Regions from separate parts of the Homo sapiens genome. Here region 2 is linked to region 1. The links come from fine-mapping of genetic effects on plasma protein levels. A gene starts in region 1. The other region holds a variant in brackets. All regions are shown on one strand. Distances are between the middles of the regions.

Region 1 (9,880 bases):
GAAAATGTTAAGAAAATCATAAGGAGGGCTGGGCATGGTGGCTCACACCTATAATCCCAGCACTTTGGGAGGCTGAGGCAGACGGATCACTTGAGGTCAGGAGTTCGAGACCAGCCTGGCCAACATGGTGAAACCCCATCTCCACTAAAAATTTGCTGGGCTTGGTGGTGGTCACCTATAATCCTAGCTACTTGGGAGGCTGAGGCAGGAGAATCGCTTGAACCTGTGAGGTAGAGGTTGCAGTGAGCTGAGATCGCGCCACTGCACTCCAGCCTGGGCAACAGATAGAGACTCCGTCTCAAAAAAAAAAAATCATAACGAGGAGGAGGAAGAGGAGGGGTTGGTCTTGCTGTCTTCAGGGTGGTAGAGGTGAAATAAACTCATGTATAAGTAGATCCACACACAGTTCAAACTTGTGTTGTTCAAGGGTCAACTACACTTCCAAAGCCCTCCTTATTTCCCTTTCCCTTCCCAAGGGTTACTATTCCCTTCCCAAGGGTAACCATTATCCTGATTTCTGACACTATAGATTAATTTTATCCATTTTTCAACTTGATATAAATAAAATCATTCACTATGCTCTCTTTTGTGTCTGCTTTCTTTCCTCAATTTTAGGTTTTGTGAGATTCACCCATGTTATGCATAATTGCAGTCTGTGCTCACTGCTGTATAACCTTCTATGATCAGGTGAATACAGGCCAGGTGGGGTGGTTCACGCCTGTAATCCCAGCACTTTGGGAGGCCAAGGAGGGTGGATCACTTGAGGTCAGGAGTTCGAGACCAGCCTGGCCACCATGGCCAAATCCCACCTCTACTGAAAATATAAAAATTAGCTGGGCATGGTGGCACATGCCTGTAATCTCAGCTACTCAGGAGGCTGATACAGGAGAATCGTTTGAACCCGGGAGGCAGAGGTTGCAGTGAGCCAAGATCATGCCAATGCACTCCACCAGCCTGGGCAACAAGAATGAAACTCTGTCTCAAAAAAAAACAAAAACAAACAAACAAAAAAACTACTTATCTATGCTACCTTTAATGGGCATTTAGTTTCCAGTGTGATTCTATTACAAACACTGCTGCAAACATTCTTGCACATATTAGTAAACACATGTATGCGTGTATGTTGGCTGTATATCTAGGAATGAAACTGTGGGGCCAAAGGGTATGCATTATATCCCAGTTCTTTTTAATAAATTCTTTTCTGCTTAAAATCAATCAGATTGTATTTCTCTTCCTTGCAATTAAGAACCTGGGCTGATATGCTATCTGTTTTTTCAGTAGCCATTTTCTCCACAAAGCTTTCCCTGACTATAAAAGCCCTCAAGGAGCAGTAATAATGCACATCCCATTTCAGTATATTTTACATTATCCTGAATTATTCAGTTATTTTATAGCAGTAAATCCTGTCCCTCCTACTGTCATAAGCTCCAACACAGCAGTTTTCAACTGTCACTTCATAACAAACTGGTGTGCCATGGTAAATTATAGTATACAGTAAGTAATTTGTTACTAATAAAAAAAGTACCAAGTCTGTGAATGAATGATATATATGGATAGATTCAAGATTCCCTTTAGATAACATTTCTGTCACTCGTTTGAACTCCAGTATGCTCCCTTGATCAGATGATCTGATGTATCCCACAACCCCTAGCAGTGTGTCTTTTATATGAATGTCATCTATCATGAGTGTCATGGTAGGGGACACCATGTGTATTACTTTTCCTCTATCTCCTATCATTCCAAGTAGTGCTGAATGCATATTAGATTTTCAATAAATACTGATTAATTATATCAAGGTGAAAACACACTGCAATAGGGACCCAAAACATAGCTTAATCTAATTACAGAGAGGCCAGTCCTTTAGCTCTTCCAAATCTTGAACATATCAGTCTTCTGGATATTCCCTCAAACCCCATGTTGGGTTTCACTTCAATAAATTTTGACATGGATGTCAAGCTAGGAACAGAGCTTTTCCCAAAAGGTAAGTTTACAGTTGAAATATTTACACTTTATTAAAAAGTATCTAGCAAGCAATTTCCATCCTTATTGCTGTGTTTGATTTTACAATACCCAATTTTTAAAAGGCTTTATGACATTAAAAAACCATAGATGAATATATTCTAGAGTGTGTAATTTTAGAGCTGAGAGTTTATTCTCTAAATAAAAGAAAAAGGTATGCCTCAAAATCAACCGTTCTCAAAGTCAAATATCCTCTCAATCCTGTTTTCCAAAAAGGTCATTTGTAAATTCTTTTAGAATGCAGACCTTGACCGGGCAGTGGCTCACACCAGTAATCCTAGCACTTTGGGAGGCCAAGGGGGGCAGATCACTTGAGCTCAAGAGTTCAAGACCAGCCTGGGCAACATGGCAAGACCCCATCTATACTAAAAATACAAAAGAATAGCTGGGTGTGATGGTGCATGCCTGTGGTCTCAACTACTCGGGAGGCTGACATGGGAGGATCGCTTGAGCCCATGAGGCAGAGGTTGCAGTGAGCCAAGATCACTCCACTGCACTCCAGCTGGGGGAATGGAACAAGACCCTGTCAAAAAAAAAAAAAAAAACCTCTCACAGAGAACACAGACCTTACTTCCCCAAGTGTATGACACTGCAAAAAGTGGCTAGGTTTTTGCAAGTCTATTTGACCCAAAGTATAGCTGAAAACATAAACACACAAAATTAGGGGTGGGGGAAGAACATAATGCTAGCAATAAAACAAAACCAATAAAAAGAAACCAAACAATGATCCAAGATACAATGGATTGATTATATAATGAAGTGATTAAGAGTCCCCATTCCTGGAGTGGAAGAGCTAGAACTCAAATCTGGCAGTCCAACTTCCTAGCTGTGAGACTTTGGGCAAGTTACCCTTGTTTAGAATTATAGTGCATATTTCTCCAATAGGTTCTTTGAAAGCATATAAACCCTTCAGAGCTAAAAGAAATTTGCCAAACAAGTTAGATACCAATTTACAAGTCTCCTTTTTAGTAAACACAGCACCTAAAGGGAACCTTCCCAAGTTTTAGCTTTATGTTTACTTTCATCATATTAAATTCTGGACTCTTGTCCTCAAACTCATGAATTTAGAATGATGTTGAGCAAAAGGTCTTTTTAAAATACAGGACACAGAGGCATACGGTACCTATTTATCTTTGTTTTCTATTCAGAGTGATGGTTTTCCTACAAGTTTAAGTCAGATTAACTGTTTCTCCTTTATAATTCCTAATAATAGGTACACTCATTGCATTCAGTTACTTTATACCCTTGCTTTTGGTAAGTTTCTTAAAGGAGAAAAGCAATATGATTTTAAAGTAAGAATGTTGAACACATGAAAAAGAGTATTAAAAGTTAATAAAAATATGTTTTTAAGCTATAAAATGACTTAATTTGTTAAGGCCAAAGAGTGGGTAAGGAAACAAGATTCAACACTACTCAACTAATGGAAAGTGCTTATTGTTGAGCAGTGTTTGGCACACCTCCAGAATTCTTTCACAATGCACAGCAGGATACCAACAAGTACTTATAAAGTATACTTTTGGGTCTGAGGGGATCTCTGATCACTTTAATAAGAAATTATGATCAGAATACTTTTGCACTACAGAAAGAAGAGCAGCCTTCCTGCATCAAGGGTCATTTAAATCAGCTCCAGTGCTACGAAATAATGCTTGGTTATAGACAAAATCTACCCAAAGATATAGGGGAAGAAAGCTGTTCTTTTGGGACATATTTGAGTATCTATAACCCTATCAGATGTGACAATCTGATATTTGGGACATATTTGAATATCTATAACCCTATCAGATATGATAATCAATGACTAACAAACTAATCTGGTATTTGGGACATATTTGAATATCTATAACCCTATCAGATGTGATAATCAATGACTAACAAACTAACAAGCCTGTCCTTTCTTATCTTCTAGCTTGACTTCTGTTTTTCGTTTTTTTTTTGTTTTTTTTTAGGGTTCAGAATTTTTCAGTCCTTTACAGTATCTCTATTATAACTAGAATAATTTGGCAGAACCTCGAAATCAAAGTTATCAGTTAAATGAAATGTGTTAAGCCTATAGAAAAATCTTAGTGCTTGTTTTCTCTCAGAGAAAACCTAACTTTGTGAAAACCTAACTCTCCTCACCAAGGAACTCCTAATTCTCCATATTACCCCCTTCGAGACTACGGAGGTATATCTGAAGGAGTACAGGTAAGAAACTAGCATTATTATATGGGATTATACATTAGTAAATTACTGTATAATTATCCGTACTGCTTAGCACTGATCTTGAAGTTTTCAATCCAAAAGAACTTCTTGCAAAACATCATTTAAAATTCATGGAAGAAAAAGGAGACTAAATGAGTCTAGTTTACCACCATATCCCTAGTGCCCACCAATGAATATCTTCAACAAAAATTCACTACGGGTTAACCATGTACCAGACCCTATGCTAGGTAGGCAATGGGAAGTAACAGTACATAAGATCGTCTCTGCTCTTAGAGACTGCTACCATAGGAGAGACTTGACTAAAACTAGGGGGAAACAAAAAAGCGTGGAAAATAGGCTAGTAACCTAAGATTTTGCAAATGATAAGATTTATTCCTATTTCCCCAGATGGTCACATGGCTGGCCTCCTGCCAACACCCAGGTCTCTGCCCAAATGTCACCCGATAACGGAAGGCCCTCTGACCACATAATATAAAGAAGGATCATCCACCATCACCCATTCCTATCATCTACTCATTCTCCTTTCTCATTACCTGTGTAATTTTCTTCATAGTGTTTTTGTTTTGTTTTGTTTTGAGACAGAGTTTTGCTCTTGTCCCCCAGGCTGGAGGACAGTGGCATGATCTCGGCTCACTGCAACTTCCACCTCCTGGATTCAAGCAATTCTCCTGCCTCAGCCTCCCGAGTAGCTGGGACTACAGGTGCTGGCCACCATGCCCTTGTATTTTTAGTAGAGATGGGGTTTCACCATGTTGGCTAGGCTGGTCTCGAACTCCTGACCTCAGGTGATTTGCCCACCTTGACCTCCCAAAGTGCTGGGATTACAGGCGTGAGCCACCATGCCCGGCCTCTTCATAGTGTTTATCACTATCTGACATTATATTATTTATCTGTTGAGCTTTCTTCTCCCATTAAAATGTAAGCTCCATGAGAGCAGGAACCTCATCTGTCTTATCCATTCCTCTGTCCCTTTCACCTAATATAGTGGCTGGGACACAATAGGCATTCAGTAAACGTGTGGAAGGGAGAGGCTCCTACCAGTAACATACACTAAGAATATTTCTGTGAGGTTTTTCCCACCCAGAAAAGCCTCAAACCTAAAAAAAAAAAATTCTGAACCCTAAAAAAACAAACAAACAAACCAAAAAACAGAAGTCAAGCTAGTTATAAGAATCAATAACCACAGAAGAATCCTGAAATCTATGATATCACAAAAGGACCATAATTAGGCAATTATATAAAGAAAGGATTTTCACCCACTATCCACTTTATAACACCTCTAAATCATATAGCTTCTCTTCGGAAAGTTGTCTGGTCAGTTACAATTCATCCAAATAAACACCAGCATAATTTAATCTCTATGAAAAAGACCAATATATAGCCTCTAAGAATCCTTTTCTGTACTTATTCTAAAGCTGCTGTTTTTAAAAGGTTATGGGTGAAGCTGGGATAGAGTTATAAAGTTACAAAGTCAAACTGGCACAGCTAGAGCACTAATGCTAATAAGACTATAAATTTAGGACAGGTCCTCCTTCATTGGCACTCCGTACAGTACCCAGGCACAGTTCTAGCTACATAGTAGGTACTTTACAAATATTTATTGATTTAGCTACATATTAGGTACTTTACAAATATTTATTAAGTTTTCAAAAACCTATTATTGGTATCCATTTTGATATAGAAAAGTAACTTGTGCAAAACCCACCAAGCAACTGCTAAATTCTTGACAGAAAAAGCTATATGGGAGGACTTTGGGCTCCACACTGAACCAAGAGCCATCAGAAAATGCAGCTGTATAGAAAAATGGTTTCTATTTCATCCTGGAACCTCTTAAAAATCAGATCTAGGTACATTATTAATATTTACTTTTCCAAATCCTGCTCTGAACTTGGAGGCGGAGGGAATCAATCTTGGAAATTTTCCAAGAGGAAGAATCTAGTTAGTCCTGATCAATAAATGGCAAACTAGCAGATGAGCTGATGGGTTCTTTTATGTGCTTCTTTTTGCATGTTTATTTTCTGCAGTGAGTAAGCATTGCTTTTGTAAAAACAAAACAAAAAAGCTTTCATTAAAAAACAAAAAAAAATTTAATGACATGAAAGCCAACAAGTAGGACAACTATTATTTTTTTCACTTTCCCAAAACAATAACAGTGTTGTATTTGTGCACAGATTCAATTGGCAGGGAACTACTGATTAACAGATGCCTTGGTCAGATGTGTTCTAGTCACTGATAAGGTACTTTCCATTGTAAACAATCCTTTCTTAGGGTCAGTTGGCCCTCAGTAAGTGCTCCAAGGTACAGTTAAGGCTTCCAATTAAGTATTCAAGCAAAGCCTGCCTCAAGGCCGCCTTTCAGAAGTGCTACAGAAGAGTTTCCTGCGCGCTGTGAACAGTTGGACTACATCAGGGATTCCCAAAGTTTTGGTGTCAGGACCCCTTTACTTTCTTATCCACTGAGGACTTCACAGAGGTTTATGTGAGTCATATGTATTGGTATTTACAGTATTAGAAATTAAAACTGAGAAATGAATAAAATATAAGAACATCAGAGTGGTGAGGTCATCACATGTTACGTAGCCACTGGAAAACTCTGCTGTACACTGGTGAGAGGATGAGAGTGAAAAGGACAAAGGACAAATAACTTCTTTTTTTTTTTTTTTTTTTGAGACAGAGTTTCGCTCATGTTGCCCAGGCTGGAATGCAGTGGCGCAATCTTGGCTCACCGCAACCTCCGCCTCCTGGGTTCAAGCGATTCTCCTGCCTCGGCCTCCCAAGTAGCTGGGATTACAGGCATGTGCCACGACACCGGCTAATTTTTCTATTTTTAGTAGAGACTGGGTTTCACCATGTTGGTCAGGCTGGTCTTGAACTCCTGATCTCAGGTGATCCGCCCGCCTCAGCCTCCCAAAGTGCTGGGATTACAGGCGTGAGCCACTGTGCCCAGCAGAAAAGGACAAATACCTTCTTAACCTTATTCCGAAGTTTTGATTTCACAGACGCATGAAAAGGTCCTCGAGAGTCACTGAATTAGATAATCAAGAACCCTTCCAATACTATGGTTTTCGAGCAGGATTTATCAATGTTGGCACCATTGACATTTTCAGGGAGATGATTCTTTGTTGTCAGGGGCTGCCCTGTGCTTAGTTAGGATGTTTAGCAGCATCCTTGGCCTCTACCCACTAGATGCTAAAAGCAATCCCCCAGTTGTTACAACCAAAAATGTCTCCAGATGTTGCCAAATGTCCCCTGGTTGAGAATCACTATTCCAGGGTGTTGATTTCATTCTACTGAAATGTGAATTACAAAATGTATACCTCTCACTGCTTTCTCAGACCCCTAATATGTCTATTTCTTCCCCACTCCCATCTGGGTCTGTTCTTTATGTTATTTTATTAAGTCACAAATAGCAAGAGCAGGTGGGTAGCAACAAGCACAGCATGAATCAAAGTCAGGAAGAGACACTTTAGTCAAAGTTCACTTTTAGGCATTAAAGTTGTTAGCGACCCACTGCCTATTAGGGCACAACACAATCAGCGAACATTCACCCAGCCATTTATTTATTGATTTATTTATTTTTATTTTTTGAGACAGAGTTTCACTCTTGTCGCCCAGGCTGGAGTGCAATGGCGCAATCTTGGCTCACTGCAACCTCCGCCTTCTGGGTTCAAGCGATTCTCCTGCCTCAGCCGCCCAAGCAGCTGGGATTACAGGCATGTGCCACGACGCCCGGCTAATTTTTGTATTTTTAGTAGAGACGGGGTTTCACCATGTTGGCCAGGCTGGTCTTGAATTCCTGACCTCAGGTGATACACCCACCTCGGCCTCCCAAAGTGCTGGGATTACAGGCATGAGCCACCACGCCCGGCCCCATCCAGCCATTCTTAGGCCCTGGTAACAACCCAATCCTTAGCAAGTTTGTCTACCTGCTCCCTGCACCCCCAAAATATGAGGTAATAGGCTAGCTGTGTGATGGGGAAGAAAGAAAAGAAGAAACTCTGAAGGCAAAGAGGTAGTCTACCAAACTCAAATACTCCACCCCCAAAACCTCACATCTGGGAGGCCCTCCTAACTGAAACGTCTGGGGATTTTTTTGTCAGCGTCTGGCTGGGAGGAAGTAGCAAAACTGGGAGAAAATCGACATCCTCAATACCTCCAAGTCAGATGTGCACTCCCCATCAAAGTTCCCCCTGAACCCCTTAGTCTCCAGAGGTTGGGTCCAAGTTTTCTTTCCTGGAAATTGCCCCAGCTACCTTAGGTTCCTTCGCCCTTAAAACTATGACTACCAAACTCAAACCCAGCATCACTCCTAATCTCTTGAATCATCCTTTCTTCACAGTCTCAAATTCCAACCTTCAAAATGCCCAACCCTGTCACTGCCCCTGCCCCTCAGGCTCTACTGTCCTATCTGTCCCATCTGTCCCCCACCCACACACTTCTCCCAAGCTACTCCAGGCAGGCATGGTCTTCTCTCTTAATTTCCTATCTCACCCCATAGTTTTTCCACCATCTTCAAAACTCTTCCCTGATCTCAGCAAACCAAGACTCTCCTAATTGTCTCTGGCGCCCAAAATCTGCATGTACCACCCTCCTACGCTCACTCCTCAGTGTTTTCCCCAAGTTACTCTTTCCACGCTGACCCTCTCCACGCTTCACTCCTCCCAGCCTACTCCCTCGGCGTCCACCCCCCGTTACCGGCCCCTTCTTACTCTCCTGGGCCCTTCTTCCCCGCCATCCGTCGGTCAGGCCTTCTCTAGGTCACCGCTTGCCTCCCCGGGCCAACCGCCGCCGCCCAGTGTTAGCTGCTGAGCCTCTCAACCCCCTCCCCCTCGGACCAGTCTTTCAGGTTGTAGCTTTGAACTGGTGCCCCGGGCCCAGGCGGACAGACTAATCGGGAGGGCCCGACAACTCACCCAGGACTAGGCAGACCAGAACGAGCCCTGAGCCCGGAACCGGGAAGAGGCGGAAGCACACCATGACCCCGCAGAGCAGGCGGCGACGGCGGCGACGGCGGCGGTACAACAACAGCTGCAACACCAGGGAAAAGGCTCGCTGGACCTGGGTCAAGAGCACTGATGACCACCGACCACAGCCTTGCAAAAGCCAGGAATCGGCGCTTCAGTGCGAGTCATAAGACTAGGGGCGGGGCTCTTTCTTGCTTACAGCCAATCTCCGCGCTTGAAAGCGGCGAGAGGGGTGGTGATGTAGCGGCCGGTGGGCGGGGCGACCACGCCCTGGCTTTTTGGTTCACAGCCCTTCCTATGCTCCTGAGAGATATGCGCGGACGGCATTTTCTTTTTCTTTTTCTTTCTTTTTTTTTTTTTTTTTTAATTTTACTTTAAGTTCTGGGATACATGTGCAGAATGTGCAGCTTTGTTACATAGGTATACATGTGCCATGGTGGTTTACTGCACCTATCAACCCGTCATCTAGGTTTTAAGCCCCACATGCATTAGGTATTTCTCCTAATGCTCTCCCTCCCCTTGGCCCCCACCCCTTGACAGGCCCCCGTGTGTGTTGTTCCCCTCCCTGTGTCCATGTGTTCTCATTGTTCAACTCCCACTTATGAGTGAGAACATGCAGTGTTTTGTTTTCTGTTCCTGTGTTAGTTTGCTAAGGATGATGGCTTCCAGCTTCATCCATGTCCCTGCAAAGGACAT
Region 2 (6,866 bases), 29 kb before region 1:
GAGCTGAGATTTTAAGAATGAATAGGAATTAATGATGCAAGTAATGGGGGAAGGGCATTCCAGGTATAAGAAATAGCACAGACAAAAATATGGAGAGTAAAAAGACATAGCACTTCAAGGGAAACGCAAGCAGGTTGGCAGAGCTAGAACAATGGATCAAAAGGTATTTTTGGCTGGATAGAAGGCAGAAAAAGTGTGCAGGGACCCAGGTCACAAAGGTACTATATGCTCTTAGGTAGTCTGGCCTTATCCTGATGAAAAAAAAATTCAGCAGCAGGATATTAAGCAGGATTTCATTTCAGAAGTTATGGCAGATGGAGGTAGTAAGGTAGGACATATCTTTATCACTAGAGTCCAGGTAACCAATAATATTGTCCTGAGCTGGATTAATGAAGTGCAGAAGAAAAGCAGAAGGCACAGACTGGAGATCAAATTAGAAGGCAAAATTGACCAAACGGATGTAGGGGGTGTACGAGGAGGAGATAATAGAATGGTTTCCAATTCCACACTTGACTGATTATGTAGATGCTGGTGCCATTCTATAAAAGAGGAAGAATATATGCATTTCAGTTTTTTGTAGTTATATGGAACAGGTGGTAAAAAGGATACGTGGAAGAGAGAGATGCTCAGTTTTAGATATGTGAGTTTAAGATATCTGTGTCCTTAGTTGAGCATGGTAGCTTACGCCTGTAGTCCTAGCTACTTGGGAAGCTGAGATGGGAGAACTGTTTGAGCCCAGGAGTTCAAGACCAGCCTGGGCAGCATATCGAGAACCCATCTCAAAAAAAAAAAAAAAATCACTATGTCCTAACCAAGTGGCTATATGAACCTAAGTGGTAGTTAAAACATGGGCAAGAACATTTCTCAGTAAGGGGAAGTAGAATAAAAAGAGGATCAGAGACAAAAACCCTTGGGAACACCAATACCTGTGGGATAGACAATGGAGTAGGAAAAAGATGTAAAAGGGCAGATAGAAAATGGCGCCAGAGAAGCTAAGGATGGAACGTTTCAATTAAGGTGGAAAGACAGCAAATAATAGTAGAAAGCTTTGAAACATGTCCATTGCCTCTAGCAATATGAAGGGTGGGAGATATGAGTAAAATTGCTGCAGGTTTAAGAGGGAATGGGAAGTGATTGGTTAGGACATCAAGAACTTGGGCAGGGTAACAAATACAATACTCATTTTGAGAAGTTTAGAATGATTAAGGCAGGACAAAAGGGAGGTAATTAGAAGGGGGACATAGGGACAAGAAAGGATAGCTTAAGGTTAGAAGAACTTAAATAGGATGAGGGAAACAGCCATTAGCAATTGACAGAAGATGCTGAATGGTACAAGTTCTCCTACAAGTTAAGAGATTGAATTCCAAAAGCGTAAGACATTAAGAACTCAATACATAACAATCTGGGGTCACTTAGTAATGGGAAAAGAGATATAAATGGGCCTTGATGACATAACTGTTTGCCTCAGTTTAACCAGGAAAAGAAAACCTACTCTGAGACTGGAGAGGAGGAAGGAATGCTACAGATGGATACACTTGCAGGAAAGAAGTTAACTGCTATTTCTATTTCCCATTTCCTGTGTCTTGTTGCCCTAGTTCTCTGCCTAGCTTGCAGTCTACCAGGGACTGATAAATCAGATAACTAAGCTTATTAGAATTGTATCAAAGATAGGACAAATAGGCTGCATGGCAATTCTGATTGTGCTTGCATTCAAGAAATGTGCCAAGCTTTCCCCGCCGCCCCCACTAGCCTCTGGGGCAATAACTAGGAACAAAATGCAACCCTGGAGTTTATAAACTTTTCTGACATTGACTTGGGCTGCCAGTTCAATTATTTGTTTTACTTGCTTCTTGGTTCTGTTAAGAATCCAGAGAGCTGAGGCTGCCAGATGTGACCTGTGAATAGATGGTGTTAAGAATCCCCAGTTAGCACCTCCCCTACAATTTCCCAAATTACCACCCAGCCCATAAACTATTAGGTGACATGTACCATAAAGTATTATGCCGTGGGTTTAATATAACTTGGTTTTTTAAAAATTCATTAGTAGATTAATTTCTTATTCTGGCAACAGACTCATAGTTCTCTCTTTCCCAAATTGGGTATTTGACCTAGTACTGAAACGACTTTCATAAATACTGCCAATAAGGCTTTCATGTAAGACAAATATTCTCAGAGTAGCTCAAAAAGGCAATTCCGCTAATACAAAGATCTTTCTAGATACTGTCATTTACTTAAAATGCTCTCAATTAGTATGTGAAATATTAATTTATAATAACTATTGATTGTATGAATTCAACCTTTAAAAATTATTTAGTTAATGGAAAAAATGTTGGTAAAACAGTAACTTTAATGGGATCACATTCTGAAGAAAAGAAAATCTCATCCTATAAGTCATTTTGATCTGATCTACTTGCCTAATGTATACTTAACGCTGTATTGAAAATGCTTCTGGGGAAAAGAGAAGTGTATTTGCAGAAGAATTTAATAGCCACAGAAGCAATAAAGATTTTTAAAGATTAAAAAGTTCCATGGCCACTAAAATTTCAGTAAGAAGTTTCATGTAGATTAAAAATGCTGTTAATCTTCAATTTTCTGCCAGTTCAGACATTTTTCAAACACAATTTTCAACACAAGAACTGGAAAGCTGAGGTATACATTTACAACAAAAACTAATAAAACTTCTCTTAAAAACCAGTTGAGGCCAGGCACAGCGTTTCATGCCTATAATAACAGCAGTTCAGGAGGTCGAGGTAGGCAGATCACTTGAGGTCAGGAATTCGAGACCAGCCTGGCCAACATGGCAAAACCCCATCTCTACTAAAAAAATAAAAAGGTAGCCAGGTGTGGTGGCACTC[G/A]TCTGTAATCCCAGCTACTTGGGAGGCTGAGGCATAAGAATTGCTTGAACCTGGGAGGCGGAGGTTGCAGTGAGCTGAGATCACACCACTATACACACCCAAGCCTGGGCAACAGAGCGAGACTCCATCTCAAACAAAACAAAACAAACAAACAAACGAGTCAAAACTTCTTTTTGGAAGGATCCACATTAAGAAGCACATTCTTAGGTGATATTTTGTTATATACATTTTATATCTATAATCAAACTGTGTTAAGTAAATCACATGCATCTGAAAAGATTCGTGAAGCTACTCAATATCATTCATGAATATCTATACCAGTTTCAAATACAAGAAATGGTGATTATTAACGCAGAAAGTTAGCTACCAGGGTAAAAGAAAAGGAGATGGGTGGAAGATGAGCCCAAGACAATTTAACATTATCTACCTAAATAAACAGATGAAATACTATCATCTTAAAAATGTCCAAGTCTTATAAGAATTCCTCCTGAAAAACTGCAGGAAACTTAAGTGGTACATTTTACACTGAACTTATAGTATGTTCTTGATACGTAACAAGTAGCTTATCAGATTCCTTCTAAAATACTAAGATGTATGAAATACTATGATGCATTCCTCTGAAATGCAAATTATCACTCAAAGAAATGAGTAGCAGGATTTTAAAGCCCCCACCCACTGGATGAAGAAATTGAGACACTAGAAGTTAAACAACTTGGCCAAAGACAATGGTAGTTAACTGCAGAGTTTGCAGCCGTGATGACTAACTGGCATTCACATGGCTTAACTGGGTAATTCAGAGAAAAGTTACCAGCTACATTGCTAAGTTTTCTTATGTGATATAGTAAGGTGACTAGGTAACTATCCGTATATGGAAACTGGAAGGCTCAAGTATTTTAGAGTGATCTAAGTAAGAGAGAGACTGCACACAATCCTACGTTGGTTCAGATCAATAGCTCAATATGTATGGCTGCAATGTAAAGCTACTATGTAGAGATATTGAATATCAACCTCAACTTAGGAATTGAGAAAAGTGTACAAAGAGATACTCCGCAGCTTTTATTATGAAATAAATATTCTAGATCACTGGTTCCCTAACTGACTATGCATCAGGTTCAGCAGGGGAGCTTACACACACACACACACACACACACACACACACACACACACACTCTCTCTCTCTCTCTCTGTCTCTCTCTCTCTCTGTCTCCTCATTAGACCTACTACGTTAAATCCTCTAAGGATGCAGCCTGGAATCTATTTTTATAAAACGCTTCCCAGGTTGATCTTATTCTGTAGCCTGCCTAGCATCAATCGAGGCCTATGTATGGGACTATTCTTCCAGATGGTAATATACAGACAGAACATCAGAACATTTTGCAAATAATTCAGTTCTACTTCTAAACATTTCTAAAGTTTTTCCATTTGAAAGAAATTGCCATTATGTAGTATACAAAATCTTGACTTTAACCAACGGGAAAAAAGGTAAGCAAATTGCCTTAAGAAATAAAAGAATCTTTATTGTTTTAGAAGCAATTTTGAGCAAACAGACAGGCAAATATCTAAAGATACCATACATCAACTAGTGGTTTAAACATTTGAAGAAAAAACATGGAAAGTATTTACATGGACCAGTTTCTTTATACAAATGCTAAAACATGAAAAACACCCAAAACCAGATAGAGCGTTACCATCAAGGTATGAATCTAGTAATACAAATAAAACTACAAAAGGTACAAAGAACATGTAGCTATAGGAAATAATAGTGTAAATAGCAGTATATAAACTGGCCCATGTAAAATACAAAAATATTCACTGAAGTCAGGTTTTCTATAAAACAGTGTTTATTAGAGGTATTTTACTATGAATCAGGCATATAATCTGAATGTAGAAACTTTTAGAAATATTAACAGCATTCAGTCAGTGCCATGCACTTGTGCTTCCAATTATTTTTTTAAAGCTGCTTTGTTTTGACTCATGTGAAATAGTTAAGGCCTACATTCTTATACACATTATCCATCTTACAAGGTTAACAATTTTACACTAAAACACAGTTTAAATTAAAAACGATTTTGAAAAATTACATCTATATTTAATCCCTAAGAAGTGTTTTAAGCTGGTAATGCAGCTCGCTGTAGCTCTAAGAGAGGGGTTAGTCAGGAATCTGATCTTGAGCCATAAAGGTTTTCAGGCTAAACAAAGAACAAATTTAAGTGACGGAAAATATTTATAATTCCAATATAACTCAGTTATATTGTTATAAAAATACCCATGCTAGCATGCAACTGCCTATATATGTGTGCATATATATATATATGTCTGTGTGTGTGTATTGATCCATTCAATGTCAATATTTTGGAACCCAGACAATTTTCTCATTTTCTAGTGAATGGGAGGCACATAATCCCACCACAAAAAAAAAAAAAACACGAAAAAACAACCCCACAGGAACCTTCCATATATGGCTGCATATTAACAATTTTAATATTTGCTCAGCCATTCCAACACACACCAAAAAAGTTCTCCTAGAAGCAGCAAGAAATATTTGATGTGTTAACTACCAAGCTGATGTATTTTGCTTTCTCCTATAAACATTAGGTGGTACACGGTAATTTGACAATTGGTACATCTCTCAGACCACAAAACTGAACACAAAGCACGTGAATTAAAAATGATTCTACCATAATGAATAATAACAACGAAAGTTTTGATTAGCACAGAACCATTTAAATGTGAAAGCCAAATTAGTGATGTTGTAGCAATCAATGCAAGCTGGAAACAAAGAACAACTTTTTAATGGATTAAGATAAAACCAAGACTTTTTGGTTAGATGCAAGTTTTGTTTGTTTGTTTGTTTTGTTTTGTTTTGTTTTGAGATGGAGTTTCGTTTTTGTCGCCCAGGCTGGAGTGCAATGGTGCGCTCTTGGCTCACCGCAACCTCTGCCTCCCGGGTTCAAGTGATTCTCCTGCCTCAGCCTCCCGAGTAACTGGGATTACAGGCGCCCACCACCACGCCCAGCTAATTTTTTGTATTTCTGATAGAGATGGGGTTTCACCATGTTGGCCAGGCTGGTCTCAAACTCCTGGCCTCAAGTGATCCACCCACTTCGGCCTCCCAAAGTGCTGGGATTACAGGCGTGAGCCGCCACGCCCAGCCTAGATGCAAGTTATTTTATAAGTGTAAGTGCACTTCGTTATCTAGGTTCTAGGACACACTGGCATTTCTTAAGAAAAAGAAAATAATAAAATACATCACTATCAACAAGAAATGTTGGAAGGCTAAAGAGAAATCTGCATTAATTTTAGTACTGCATACAGAGGCCAATTTATGAGCACAAAGTACTAATGCCCTCAATTGGCACTGGCAAGCAATTATCTCTAAAGCACCTAAAAAATGGATTGAAATGCCCAGTTGGAATAGTCTTATATATTGCAATTTAAAAGATTGAAATATCCAGTTTTTTTAAAAAAAAGATTAAACAATAAGATTAATACCTACTCTAAATTTTAAAAAGCTTTTGTATCTTTTGTCATTACAGCCACATAAATACAAATGTATTCAAAAGGCATTAGAAAAGCATTTATTGCTAAGAACATAATAATACCAGCCCCTGTTCAAATCTACTATTATATCTCTCAAAGGTCAAATATGCAGCAATGCCAAAGTAGCTAAGTTAACCTGCAAACAAAAATCACACACACACACACACACACACACACACACACACACACAAAAAGAGCAAAAGGAGCAAGTACAAATCCACGGTAGAACATGTTGTTCCAACTCAACTACCTGCAGGGAAAAAAAATCTCTTTTTCAAAAATTGTTTTTTCTAAACGGTGTATTTTTAGTCTGAATGTCTAAAATGAAAACACTGAAATACTAATTCAAGACAGTAAAATAGAACTTATAATCCAGTGATTTTGCACATCTTTTGCTGTAAAAATAACAGTTTTAAATTCCTTGGTTGGAAAAACCAAAGTCAGGCAACTAATTTGTAGTTGATAGTTTTT

Direction of the effects. Positions count from the first base shown, and alleles are read on the strand shown. Strength reflects both the effect of a copy and how common the allele is.
In carriers of allele G in region 2, the plasma level of the protein whose gene starts at base 9,324 in region 1 tends to be higher than with A alone (strong association).

Evidence for each region. PIP is the posterior inclusion probability: the model's chance that the variant is causal. Protein levels are from antibody-based Olink assays in UK Biobank. Linkage for the fine-mapping came from a reference panel and not from the study's own genotypes, which makes the PIPs less certain.
Region 2: its variant is fine-mapped to the plasma level of the LAMP2 protein (UK Biobank, PIP above 0.99).

The regions. Positions count from the first base shown.
Region 1 is chrX:120,459,973-120,469,852 of GRCh38, forward strand. It overlaps LAMP2 (lysosomal associated membrane protein 2), which reads right to left and starts at 9,324. Exons shown (of 9, transcript NM_002294.3): 1 at 9,134-9,324. The coding sequence starts at 9,197. RefSeq lists a silencer at 9,262-9,526.
Region 2 is chrX:120,432,148-120,439,013 of GRCh38, forward strand. All of the region lies in intron 8 of LAMP2 (lysosomal associated membrane protein 2), which reads right to left. Among named protein-coding and RNA genes, the nearest start is that of LAMP2, 34 kb to the right of the region's middle. The variant G/A (reference allele first, on the strand shown) is at 2,856.